Linked DNA regions of Homo sapiens. The protein of the gene in region 2 purifies or fractionates together with the protein of the main gene of each other region. This does not show direct contact. Each region holds a gene or a part of one and is shown on either strand. Other genes may lie near its edges.

The links.
Region 1: the proteins of ARHGAP1 (region 2) and RPRD1B fractionate together in Homo sapiens (co-fractionation; one large-scale study listed by BioGRID). This does not show direct contact.
Region 3: the proteins of ARHGAP1 (region 2) and CCM2 purify together in Homo sapiens (co-immunoprecipitation; one large-scale study listed by IntAct). This does not show direct contact.

The regions. Positions count from the first base shown.
Region 1 is NC_000020.11:38,085,746-38,089,391, reverse strand, and holds part of RPRD1B (regulation of nuclear pre-mRNA domain-containing protein 1B), read right to left. Parts: intron 2,696-3,646; exon of another isoform or gene 2,546-2,695; intron 1,530-2,545; exon of another isoform or gene 1,381-1,529; intron 1,284-1,380; exon of another isoform or gene 972-1,283; intron 1-971. UniProt on the Homo sapiens protein: Interacts with phosphorylated C-terminal heptapeptide repeat domain (CTD) of the largest RNA polymerase II subunit POLR2A, and participates in dephosphorylation of the CTD by RPAP2. Transcriptional regulator which enhances expression of CCND1.
Region 2 is NC_000011.10:46,680,000-46,683,645, reverse strand, and holds part of ARHGAP1 (rho GTPase-activating protein 1), read left to right. Parts: intron 1-1,463; coding exon 1,464-1,595; intron 1,596-2,266; coding exon 2,267-2,353; intron 2,354-2,536; coding exon 2,537-2,635; intron 2,636-2,898; coding exon 2,899-3,006; intron 3,007-3,082; coding exon 3,083-3,159; intron 3,160-3,363; coding exon 3,364-3,441; intron 3,442-3,646. UniProt on the Homo sapiens protein: GTPase activator for the Rho, Rac and Cdc42 proteins, converting them to the putatively inactive GDP-bound state. Cdc42 seems to be the preferred substrate.
Region 3 is NC_000007.14:45,069,671-45,073,316, forward strand, and holds part of CCM2 (cerebral cavernous malformations 2 protein), read left to right. Parts: intron 1-155; coding exon 156-291; intron 292-718; coding exon of another isoform or gene 719-867; exon of another isoform or gene 868-2,079; coding exon of another isoform or gene 2,080-2,202; intron 2,203-3,055; coding exon 3,056-3,113; intron 3,114-3,646. UniProt on the Homo sapiens protein: Component of the CCM signaling pathway which is a crucial regulator of heart and vessel formation and integrity. May act through the stabilization of endothelial cell junctions. May function as a scaffold protein for MAP2K3-MAP3K3 signaling.

The DNA.
Region 1 (3,646 bases), on a different chromosome or scaffold from region 2:
CAGACACCTGAGCCTCACAATTTCTTTGCGGACTCCACCTAGATATGGCAAGAAAAAAAACACTGAAGTTATACTTCCTATGTTAAAGCTTGGAGATTAACCTAAATTTATCATGTTTTGCAAACAAGCACTATAGAAGCTCAAAATACCCCACTGCTACTCCCTGTGACCAGGGCCTCCTCATTCCATAACTGAGTCACTGCAGTAAGTCCCTGGTTAGGCCTCCTGACCCCTAGGGCTCCTAAAATGCCACCAGACTTCTCTCCCAAAAGCCCAGCTTTCATGAAACCACTCCCTTGAGAAAGTGAGGCACGGCACCCCACTAGCTCCATGATCTGGTCCTTCAGAGCAGAGTTCAAGGTCTTACAAAATCAGCCCCTGCCTCACAACCTCCTAACCCTCTTTGTCTGTGTGGACCATTTTTTCAGGATTCCCCGCAAGCCTGGAGGGGGTCTCTCTCTTCTCCTAGCCCTAGCAAAGCCTGGCCTCCACTCCTCTGCTCCTTGGACTATCTGGACTCCACCTCTCTAGGAAAATCCTTGCTCTGCATCCAGGAGACGACTCCGCATCTCCTCCTGCTCCAGAGCTCTCCCTCACACAGGGTGTGTACCTGAGCCCCTAGCAAGCTGCTCTATGCTCTCTCCATACATGTGAGACTTCTATGTTCCTCTAGAATATGAATCCCCTAATGATAGGAATGGGGCATATTTTTTTTCTTTCCTCAGCTCCCGGAAAAAGGTACTCTTGATAAATCTGCCAAGATATATAGAAAACAACCCTAGGCCATGTGAAGTCTGGGGCTGTTGGCCCCCTTGGGGCTTAGTTTTTGTCCTCTCAGTGTCTCTGCAAGGGTAAGTAGGTCCCTGACGCTGGGCCCCTGCTGACTTAGAAAGCCCTTCCTGCAGGAATGTAACAAGAAGCCCTGGGCTGAGATGCAGAGACCTAGGCTTGGTCCTGGTTCTGCCTCTAACCTGCTGTGTGACCGTGGATGTGTTCCCTTCTTCCATATCTGAAAGTGAGGGAACTGGACCATAACACTTCTTTTCAAGTTCTAAATTCCTTGATACCAGATCCCTGATGCACACCTGAAGAGGCAGAAAGTAGAAGCTAGAGAATGTCTGGGAAGAATAATGAGGCAGGAAAAAGGTCAAATGGAGAATACTTAGTTCAAGTTGTAAAGACAAAAGTCCAAGCAAGGAGTGAGAGGAGGGAACCAGGCATATCCTCTCCCCATTACTGCAGGCAATCAGTCTCCCACCCGCAATGAGAGCTCCTCACACAGTCTACAAAGGAAGAGAAAAGGGTAGAGAGTGAGCTCTCCTAGCAGCCCATTTCTTTTCTTTGTAAACTTACCACAACTAAAATTAAACAATGACTTACGTAAATGATTAGCAATGACTCCCACATTTAACTAGTAAGCTCCTGGAGGCCAGGACCAGACCCATCTGCTTCCCCCAGCATCCACCAGGCTCCGCAGTGTCCAGCAAACAGTAGGCACCCAGCACATGTGCCGAATGAATGAGCCATATCTAAAACATAACATCAGGTAAAAGCATACCACATGAAGTAGCTCCTGAGACTCAGACTTTGGTTAACAGTCACCTTTCACGTTCCTGAAGTTGAAAACTATTTTCAAATTTGAGGATCTGAACCCCCTTTCTCCCACAAGTACTTTTCTTCTTTGGCTGTTTATACTTCAAGGGAAATTAATATAAAGGATGAAGGCAACTAATTCTCTATTTCTGGACACGGATTCATCTAATAAACTTCTCCTGAATGGAAGGTATAAAAAGGGTAAAATAACAAAACAACTACAGAACACGGACTTCCTGCCCCCTGCCTGAATTCTCTGACCAAAGCTGACAAATCAAAGCCACCTCGACTCAGAACCAACCACTCTTGGCAACTAGGGAGCCCTTCAGTTGAAGGAGTCCCTCAAGAACAATTTGAAAACCACCAAGTCTCTAGAAGCTGAGCTGGGATCAGAATCCAAGACTCCTTACTCTTGGGTTATCATCAGACCAACGTGGCAAGTTCATTGAAGTTAAAATGGAAGGCACTTTGCTCTAATTAGACACCACCTTAAGTTCAACTAACTCTCTCCTAGGCAATTTCTTAAAAATCCCAGTTGTGGCCAGGCGCAGTGGCTCATGCCTATAATCCCAGCACTTTGGGAGGCCGAGGCAGGCAGATCACCTGAGGTCAGGAGTTCAAGACCAGCCTGGGCAACATGGTGCAACTCCATCTCTACTAAGAAATACAAAAGTTAGCTGGGCAGGGTGGTGGGTGCCTGTTAATCGCAGCTACTCAGGGGGCTGAGGCAGGAGAATTGCTTGAACCCGGCGGGGCAGAGGTTGTGGTGAGCTGAGATTGTGTCACTGCACTCCAGCCTGGGCAACAGAGTGAAATTCCGTGTCAAAAAAATAAACAAAAAAACAAAAAAAACCCCAAAAAACCAAACAACAGTTGTTTCTGTTTGGAAGGGGGTATAGGGTGGGGTACGGGGGATTCCATCATGCTTAGGCTATTATATTCTGGACATTACCGAAGAAACTCATTTAACTAAAAAGAAATGTGTTCCACTCTTCAGGCCACTCTGGAAGTGGACGGATCCTGCCCAGAGCTCTTGATGCCACTGGGTGACTCTTCTCGCAGGGACGCCTATTGTAAGAGCAGGCGTCAGAGGAAGGAATCACTAGAGAAAGAAAGAGGGAGAGTGAGACTGTCACTGAAAAGGATTAATAAACATCAAGGCTGGCCTGGGCATGGTGGCTCACGCCTTTAATCCCAATGCTTTCAGAGGCTGAGGCAGACAGACTGCTTGAGGCCAGGAGTTCGAGACCAGCCTGGGAAATAGAGACCCTGTCTCCACAAAAAAATGAAAAACACAAAACACTGAGGCTGGTAAAAAGAAAAGATCTGTAGGCTAAGAGGTTTAAATGTATTGGCAAGGATAACCGGGTATATACTCTGAAAAACCAAATACAGGCAGCAATTGCCTTTAAAACTGTTAAAACATGTACCTGCTTAACTGGGACAGTCAAATGACCCAGATTAATTTCCTGAAGAGAGGCAAGCAGGCTCGAATTCATGGCAAGCTCTGATTAGGTTAAACTGAAGCTATAGTAATTTTTATAGTCCACTAAATAGACTCAAGTAGTAACTACTGTGATTTCCCACTCCCCATCCCTGCTTTTAAAAACAGATTCAGGCTTTCCAAACAAAGTCATCTGTAAACCTTGCCATGGACCAACAGAAGAAATTAACAGTGACTCCAGGCTAGACAAGGTGGTTCACGCCTGTAATCCCAACACTTTGGGAGGCTGAGGCAGGTGGATCACTTGTGCCCGAACATGGCAAAACCCCATCTACAAAAAATGCAAAATTAGCCAAGCGTGGTGGCACATGCCTATAGTTCCAGCTACTCAGGAGGCTGAGGTGGGAAGATTGCTTGAGCCCAGGAGGTGGAGACTGCAGTGAGCCAAGATCACACCACTGCACTCCAGCCTGGGTGAGAGTGAGACCCTGTCTCAAAAAAAAAAAAAAAAAAAAGACTGACTCCAAACAAAACTCCCCCAAATACAACTCCAGCCTTCACCTGCCTCCAAATTCTCTGGTTCTTAAGCTCTCTCAGTTGGGTCTTGCA
Region 2 (3,646 bases):
AAGGAGAGGGCTTTACACACACTCCCTTCCCTTTCCCCAGTTCTTGTTCATTCCATCCATAACTCTCAGTGTGCTCAACACCAGGTGTGTATATGTTTGTGCTGAGCTGGTAGATAGCGTGTCATGAGCATAATAGGGAACCAGAGGAATTGGGGCTCTTTGGTCCACTAAAGGCCCAGTGACTGGAGCAGGTGACTCTCTGGCCACCCCATCCCCTCTCATGGGCACAGTGTTTTACCGCCGGCACTGGAGTTCATGTGTAGAAGGCAAAGCTGTCCCATGGTCAAGAATGCAGGCTTTCGGCCAGGTGCAGTGACTCATGCCTGTAATCTCCCAGCACTTTGGGAGGCTGAGGTGGGAGGATTGCTTGAGGCCAGGAACTCAAGACCAGCCTGGGCAACATAGTGAGACCTGTCTCTACAAAATAAAAAGTAGAAAAAAGAGCCGGGTGTGGTGGCTCACACCTGCGGTTCCTACTACTCAGGAGGCTGAGGCAGGAGGATAGCTTAAGCCTGGGAGGTCAAGGCTGCGGTGAGCTGTGATTGCGCTACGGTGCCCCAGCCTGGGTGACAGTAAGACCCTGTCTCAAAAAAAAAAAAAAAAAAAAAGCAGGCTTTGGTGTTAGACACTTCACTTCCAGGATCTACCACAAGCTGTGTGACCTTGGATCAGCACTTGACCTCTCTGGTCATTGCCTTCATTTGTAGGATGGGGATTACATCAGCCTCAGTTATAAGCAATGTATGAGCTAATGTATGTGAAGTGCTTGGCAGACACTAAAAACTTAATATTGAGAAATGGTGACTGTCATCATTATTATTGATTCAGAGAAATCCCTGATTCAGGGGAAACGTCATTCCCCTTTTCACTGCAGGCCTAGGCAGGCCCGGGTTAGGGTCCTGGTCTCCTGACATCTAGTTCCTGCTCAAGAGTGAGAACTGTTATTATTATTACTATTATTGAGACAGAGTTTCACTCTTGTTGCCCAGGCTGGAGTACAGTGCCACAATCTCTGCTCACTGAAACCTCCGCCTCCTGGGTTCAAGCGATTCTCCTGCCTCAGCCTCCTGAGTAGCTGGGATTACAGGCCTGCACCACCATGCTCGGCTAATTTTTGCATTTTTAGTAGAGATGGGGTTTCACCATGTTGGCCAGGCTGGTCTTGAACTCCTGACCTCAGGTGATCCACCCGCCTTGGCCTCCCAAAGTGTTGGGATTACAGGCATGAGCCACTGCGCCCGGCTGAGAGCTGTTATTACTATTCTCATTCCTCTGCCCAGCCTCTACCCTAGGCCTCCTCCACAGCAACCTGGTGACTGATTATGAGCCAGAACAGACTGTGCTAGGGGAGGGCCTGTGGGGAAGGGGCTGTGACGTGGTGGGAGACTCTTGGGGCTGCTTTCTGTCTTCGTGGGGCCGCCCCTGTGCACAGGGCAGGCCTGAGCAGGGCTTTTCCCTGGAAGGTACCTGAAGCACACCCTGGACCAGTACGTGGAGAGTGACTACACACTTCTGTATCTGCACCACGGCCTGACCAGCGACAACAAGCCCTCCCTCAGCTGGCTCCGTGATGCCTACCGGGAGTTTGACCGCAAGTGGGTTGGGGCATGGGGCCTGCACAGTCAGATCCAGAGGCAGCGGCTCTGCCAGCTTCCGGGCTGCCCTCCACTTGGGCAGGAGCTTATTCCAAGGCAGGGGGTGGCGGGGGCTGCCGTCTACGTCAATGTAAAGAATCTGCAGTCAGATCACCCTGGGCTTAAGTAAGGCCCAGTTTCTCAGCTTATTTGCACTCTGACCTCTTGTTTTACTTAACCTCTTTGAGCCTCCTGTTTTCTAATCTGTAAAATGAGACAGTGATGGCCCTTACCTCGCATGCTGGCCATGCATGTTCAAATCAGAAAATATGCACTGAGGCAGGGTGTGGTGGCTCACACCTGTAATCCCAGCACTTTGGGAAGCTGAGGCGGATGGATCACTTGAGGTCAGGAGTTCCAGACCAGCCTGGCCAACATGGTGAAACCCTGTCTCCGCTAAAAATACAAAAATTAGCTAGGTGTGGTGGTGGGTGCCTGTAATCCTAGTTACTCAGGAGGCTGAGGCAGGAGAATAGCTTGAATCCGGGAGGTGGAGGCTGCAATGAGCTGAGATCACACTCCAGCCTGGGTGAAGGAGACTCTGTCTCAAAAAAAAAAAGTATGCACTGGGACCCTAGCGTGGCACCTGTCCCACCACGCCTGCTCCTGAGTTGTCCATTCTGTCTCTGCAGGTACAAGAAAAACATCAAGGCCTTGTACATCGTGCATCCAACCATGTTCATCAAAACTCTGCTCATCCTCTTCAAGCCCCTCATCAGGTGAGTGGCCACGGGCAGGGCTGGTGGTCCCGGCTTGCCTGGAACTCTGAAGCTGGGAGGCTGGGCAGCCTGGGGACCACCAGGTGCGGCTGGGCTTCCGTCTGAACTGGGTGGGTGTTGAGGGGAGAGTGGAGGCCACCGGAAGCGGGCCCCCACAACCCAGGCCCTTTCTTCCACCAACAGCTTCAAGTTCGGGCAGAAGATCTTCTATGTGAATTACCTGAGCGAGCTGAGCGAGCACGTGAAGCTGGAGCAGCTGGGGATCCCTCGCCAAGTGCTCAAGTGAGGCGGGTGCGGCGGCTGGGGGCTCGTGAAGCCAGGGTAATGAGGACGTGTGTCCTGATTCAGAGACCGCGTGGGGCTTAGGCAGAGCAAGCCCGTGTCCCGACCTCTCCCAGGTCTTTGCTTTCTGCTGTGGAAAGCGGAGTTGTTACAGAGATCGCATGAGATGATCCTCCTGACCCCGCGTGGTCAATGCTTGATTGAATTGGCAGAGTGACTCCAGAGCCAGGCAGGACCTGACCCACCTCCCTCTACTCCTACAGATATGACGACTTCCTGAAATCCACACAGAAGAGCCCCGCGACAGCCCCCAAGCCCATGCCCCCACGGCCCCCCCTGCCCAACCAGCAGTTTGGAGTCTCGCTGCAGCAGTAAGTATGAAAGGTGGCTGGGCCACGGCGGGGCGGGAAGGGCTGCAGGCCCGGCTCACCAGCCTTTTTCCCGCAGCCTCCAGGAGAAGAATCCAGAGCAGGAGCCCATTCCCATTGTACTCAGGGAGACTGTTGCCTACTTACAGGCCCACGGTGAGTGCCGGGCCTGCCTCCTCACCAGCCAGGTCTCCCGGCTCCCTTCAGGAAGCTGGGGAAGCTGCTGGGCAGGGCAGAGGGAGGTCCTGCAAGCCTCAACGTCCCCACCCAGCCCTGCCTAGAACCCCAAGACAGAGAAGGGGCAGGGAATCCAGCCGGTGCCCAGCGCTCGGAGGCTCACCAGGCCCTACTGTTTCCCAGCTCTCACCACCGAGGGCATCTTCCGGAGGTCGGCCAACACCCAAGTGGTCCGGGAAGTGCAGCAGAAGTACAACATGGGTGAGCAGCCCTGGGCTGTTGCAGGGCCATATGTGTGTTACTGGTAGGGGGCTTCTCTGCCCTCTGCTGCCCTGTAAATGAGAGTCTCAGAGTCTCTTCCTGCTGGAGGTTTCCGTGGCTCTGGGTGTCACATAAGTCCTACTTCTGCCAGGCCTGCTGCCTCATCGGTCGGGCTCCCGGGTCCTGGGTATAGGCACATTCAGAG
Region 3 (3,646 bases), on a different chromosome or scaffold from region 2:
CCTTTGGGTCAGTGAAAGGCAGAGGGACACATTCTGGTATCCACTCTTCATTCATGTTTATTGAGCATCTGGGCTGCCCCAGGTATCCTGGAAGCCGCCTGGGAAGGCGCAGTCTCCAGCCAGACTGACCGAGCAGCTGCTGTCCCCCACTGCAGGTCGCTGCGGAGGAGCTTTGCTGTCTGCTAGGCCAGGTCTTCCAGGTTGTTTACACGGAGTCCACCATCGACTTTCTGGACAGAGCGATATTTGATGGGGCCTCTACCCCGACCCACCACCTGTCCCTGCACAGCGGTATGTTGAGTGAGAGTGGGCAGCGGGTGGGAGCAGGGACAGGAGGGGCTACTGCAGTGGCCCCCAGCTCCCCATGAGTTACTCCTGGAATAGCGCAGTTACTGCCGTGACATGGTGGCCTTTTGTTTCCAGACTTTGCTGTTCACATTAGCCCATAGGGTTTCATGAAGGCAGAAGTGTCACCTGTCCTTGAGAGAGTTGCACCAGGTCAGCGCTATGGCTTCCTGGAATAAATTTGGGGTCTGTGAACACTTTTTTGGAACCACTTGTGGCTAAAGTCACTTCACTTAACTCGGAACAAAGAGCTTGGAGAAGGCTCCTAGCACTGGGGCCTGTGATGGAATTGGGGAGGCTGAGAGTGGGTCTGGGGAGCCTCCTTTTCAGTATGCCCAGACTATGGCTGCTCTTAATGTGAAACTCCTTCCAGGACCATGGCCAGACCCATGGGAAGCTGCTCAGGCTGCCCTGGGAGGCCAGCTGGCAGTGGTGGAGCAGTGGCAGATGGGGAAGAATGGAAGGTACCCCAGAGCTGTCTCTTCCTGCATGGCCCACACAGCATTTTCAGGAGTCTGTTAGTCCATTGAAAACACTTCATCAGCAAGCTCACTTGAGTTAAGTCTTCAAAAACATCATCTGTTTTTCAGATGTATTACTTATTGAGGATTAATGGGTTATATAAATTGAGGTGCATAAAAAGCTGTTGGAGGCTGGGTGTGGTGGCTCATGCCTGTAATCCCAGCACTTTGGGAGGCTGAGGCGGGCGGATCACCTGAGGTCGGGAGTTCAAGACCAGCCTGACCAACATGGAGAAACCCTGTCTCTACTAAAAAATACCAAGAAAAAAAAAAAGGCTGTTGGAAACAGTGCGGCTTGTTGAGTACAATTTCTTCTTTTTACGGAGATAAGTCCCAGCCCTCTGCCCTTTCCCCAGTAACTCGCACATCTCAGTGAAGAGAGTAAATGGTGGAGAAGCCTGTGCTGGTGTGAGGGCTGCTCCTCAGTGCCTCCTTCTTCCCTTTCTTGCTGCTGGTGCCAGAGCCCTTTGTGGGCACTACACGCCTTGTGTTGGCCCAGCAGCTGCAGAGAGACAGCTGCTGAGCTCTCAGGCATCCTCTCTATCTCATTTAGTCCTCGGTGGCCCAGCGAGATAGGTGCAATCTTCATCCCCATTTTAGAGATGGGGAAGTGGAGGCTTAGAAGTCAACAGCTTATCCAGAGGAATGTACCATATGAGTAGCAGATGATTTATCGAGCTGTAATTAAACATTCAGTTTTAGTGCGACTGGTTTGGCCCTTGTGCTTTAAAATTCCCAAAGGGCCTTTTTTTCTTTAATAATTTTTTTTTTACTGAGAAGTACACAAGTCATACATGTACAGTTGAATGAATTTTCATAAAGTAAACACATCATGTAACACCACTACTGGGGGTTGCTGAAGTGGGCTTCTTCCCCTGCCAGCCTTTCCCAAGACCTCCCCGTGGGATCCACACACAGATGTGCACACGTTACGCACATGCATGCATTCTCTGCTTATTTCTGCCTTGGAGTTTTGCTTGCTGTGTTCTCTCTACTACAGCTATGCCAAAACATAGCAGCATAAACAGCAGAAATATATTCTCTTATAATTCTATACGTTAAGAGTCCATTGTGGGTCCCACTGGGCTAAAGTTGAGGTGTCCACAGGGCTGGTTCCTTCTGGAGGCTCCAGAGAAGAAGCCATTTCCTTGTCTTTCCAGCTCCTAAAGGCGGCTGCATGCCTTGGCTCATGGCCCTTCCTCTGTCTTCACAGCCAGCCACGTGACCTCTTCCACAGTCACATCTTCCTTTGACTGTCAGCTTCCTCTGCATTTCAGGACTCTTGCAATCACATTGAGCCCACCCAAATTCTCCAGGGTCATCTCCCTATTTCAAGGTCAGCTGATAAGCATCCTTTACTCCCCTTTGAAATTGGTAACATATTCACCAATTCCAGGGATTAGGATGTGGACGTCTTTGGGGGGTCATTATTCTGCCCTCCATACTTACCTTGTTCCTAGTGCCAGAAATGTCCCTTTTATCTCTCAGCCTCTCCCTCTGCTTCATTTAAAATCTTACCCTCTCTGCAACACTCACCTGCCTCGCTCACAAAGCTTTCACTCACTGTCTGTGCTGGTGTGAAATGTGCCTTCCTCAGGTTTGAAATAGCAAATTACAGTCTGTGTCACACGGACCTAATGTCATTTGTTGAATGTAGCTGCTCAGTGCCAGACCCTTTGCTGGTCTGAGGGTCTTGGGAATCCTGTGGCTTCACTGGGTTCAGATGGGGAGTCAGACTGCCCGGCTCTGACTGTGGTTTCTGCTGTGTGACCTGGGCCAAGTTGTGTAACTCTCTGACTTACTTCCTAATCTACAAGTGAAGACAGGGGTGATATATGCCTGGGTTAAAGGAGACAAAGCCCCAGTAACCCTGCCTGGCACATGAGTGATACCTCAAAGACAGCTTTTGCTGGCTCTGGCCATGGGTGAATGTGTACTTCAGCCCAGCGTGCAGCAGGATTTGCATTTGCCAGGATCCCCAGGAGGGGTGTATGTGGGCTCAAGTCTGGGAAGCCCTGCCCTGAGGCACACAGCACATTCCAGAGTGCGGGCAGCTTGATGAAGGACAGCAGGGTCCCTGAAGACCAGGGCTGCCGCTGTCTCCTGTAAATACAGCAGTGGGCTGGACTCAAAATGCCTCCCCACTATGTCCCTGAAAGTCATCTTAGTTTTCTGCATCTTCCTTACAGATGACTCTTCTACAAAAGTGGACATTAAGGAGACCTACGAGGTGGAAGCCAGCACTTTGTGAGTGCACATGCCACCAAGCCCTGCGGTGGGACACGCACCAAATGCGTTGTCTGGTGTTGTCCAGGCTGCAGCCAGTCAGCTCCCCCATCTCAGCTCACCCTCGCTAAGCCATCCCCAGACCCACTGTACCCAGCTTAGTGAATGGCTGAGGCCTGGCTCGCCGCCCTCTCCTCGTAGACTTCTAGAGCCCTTGCTGTCCCTCTTGTCTCTCCCTGCCTACCTTCCCATGGCCTCCCAAGAGTGAGCTTGTAATAGGCATGTTGGATGGAGCTGTTCCCCTGCCCGAGCCTGCCGAGGCGCTGGCCTTCCAGCCCATCTCTGCCACCACCTGGGGCTCTGTAGTAGTTCACCCACTCGCGCTCTCCATTCCTGCCACCTCCCCAACCCTGGCTCCTTCCCCTGCCCAACAATGCTGCCCACTGCCTTGACCTGTGTACTCCCTCTCTTCACTCAGAGCCCAACTCAGAGCCATGCCCCCGGGGAGCCCCAGGACCAGGCCAAGCTGACCACCCTGCATGCCCAGTCAGCTC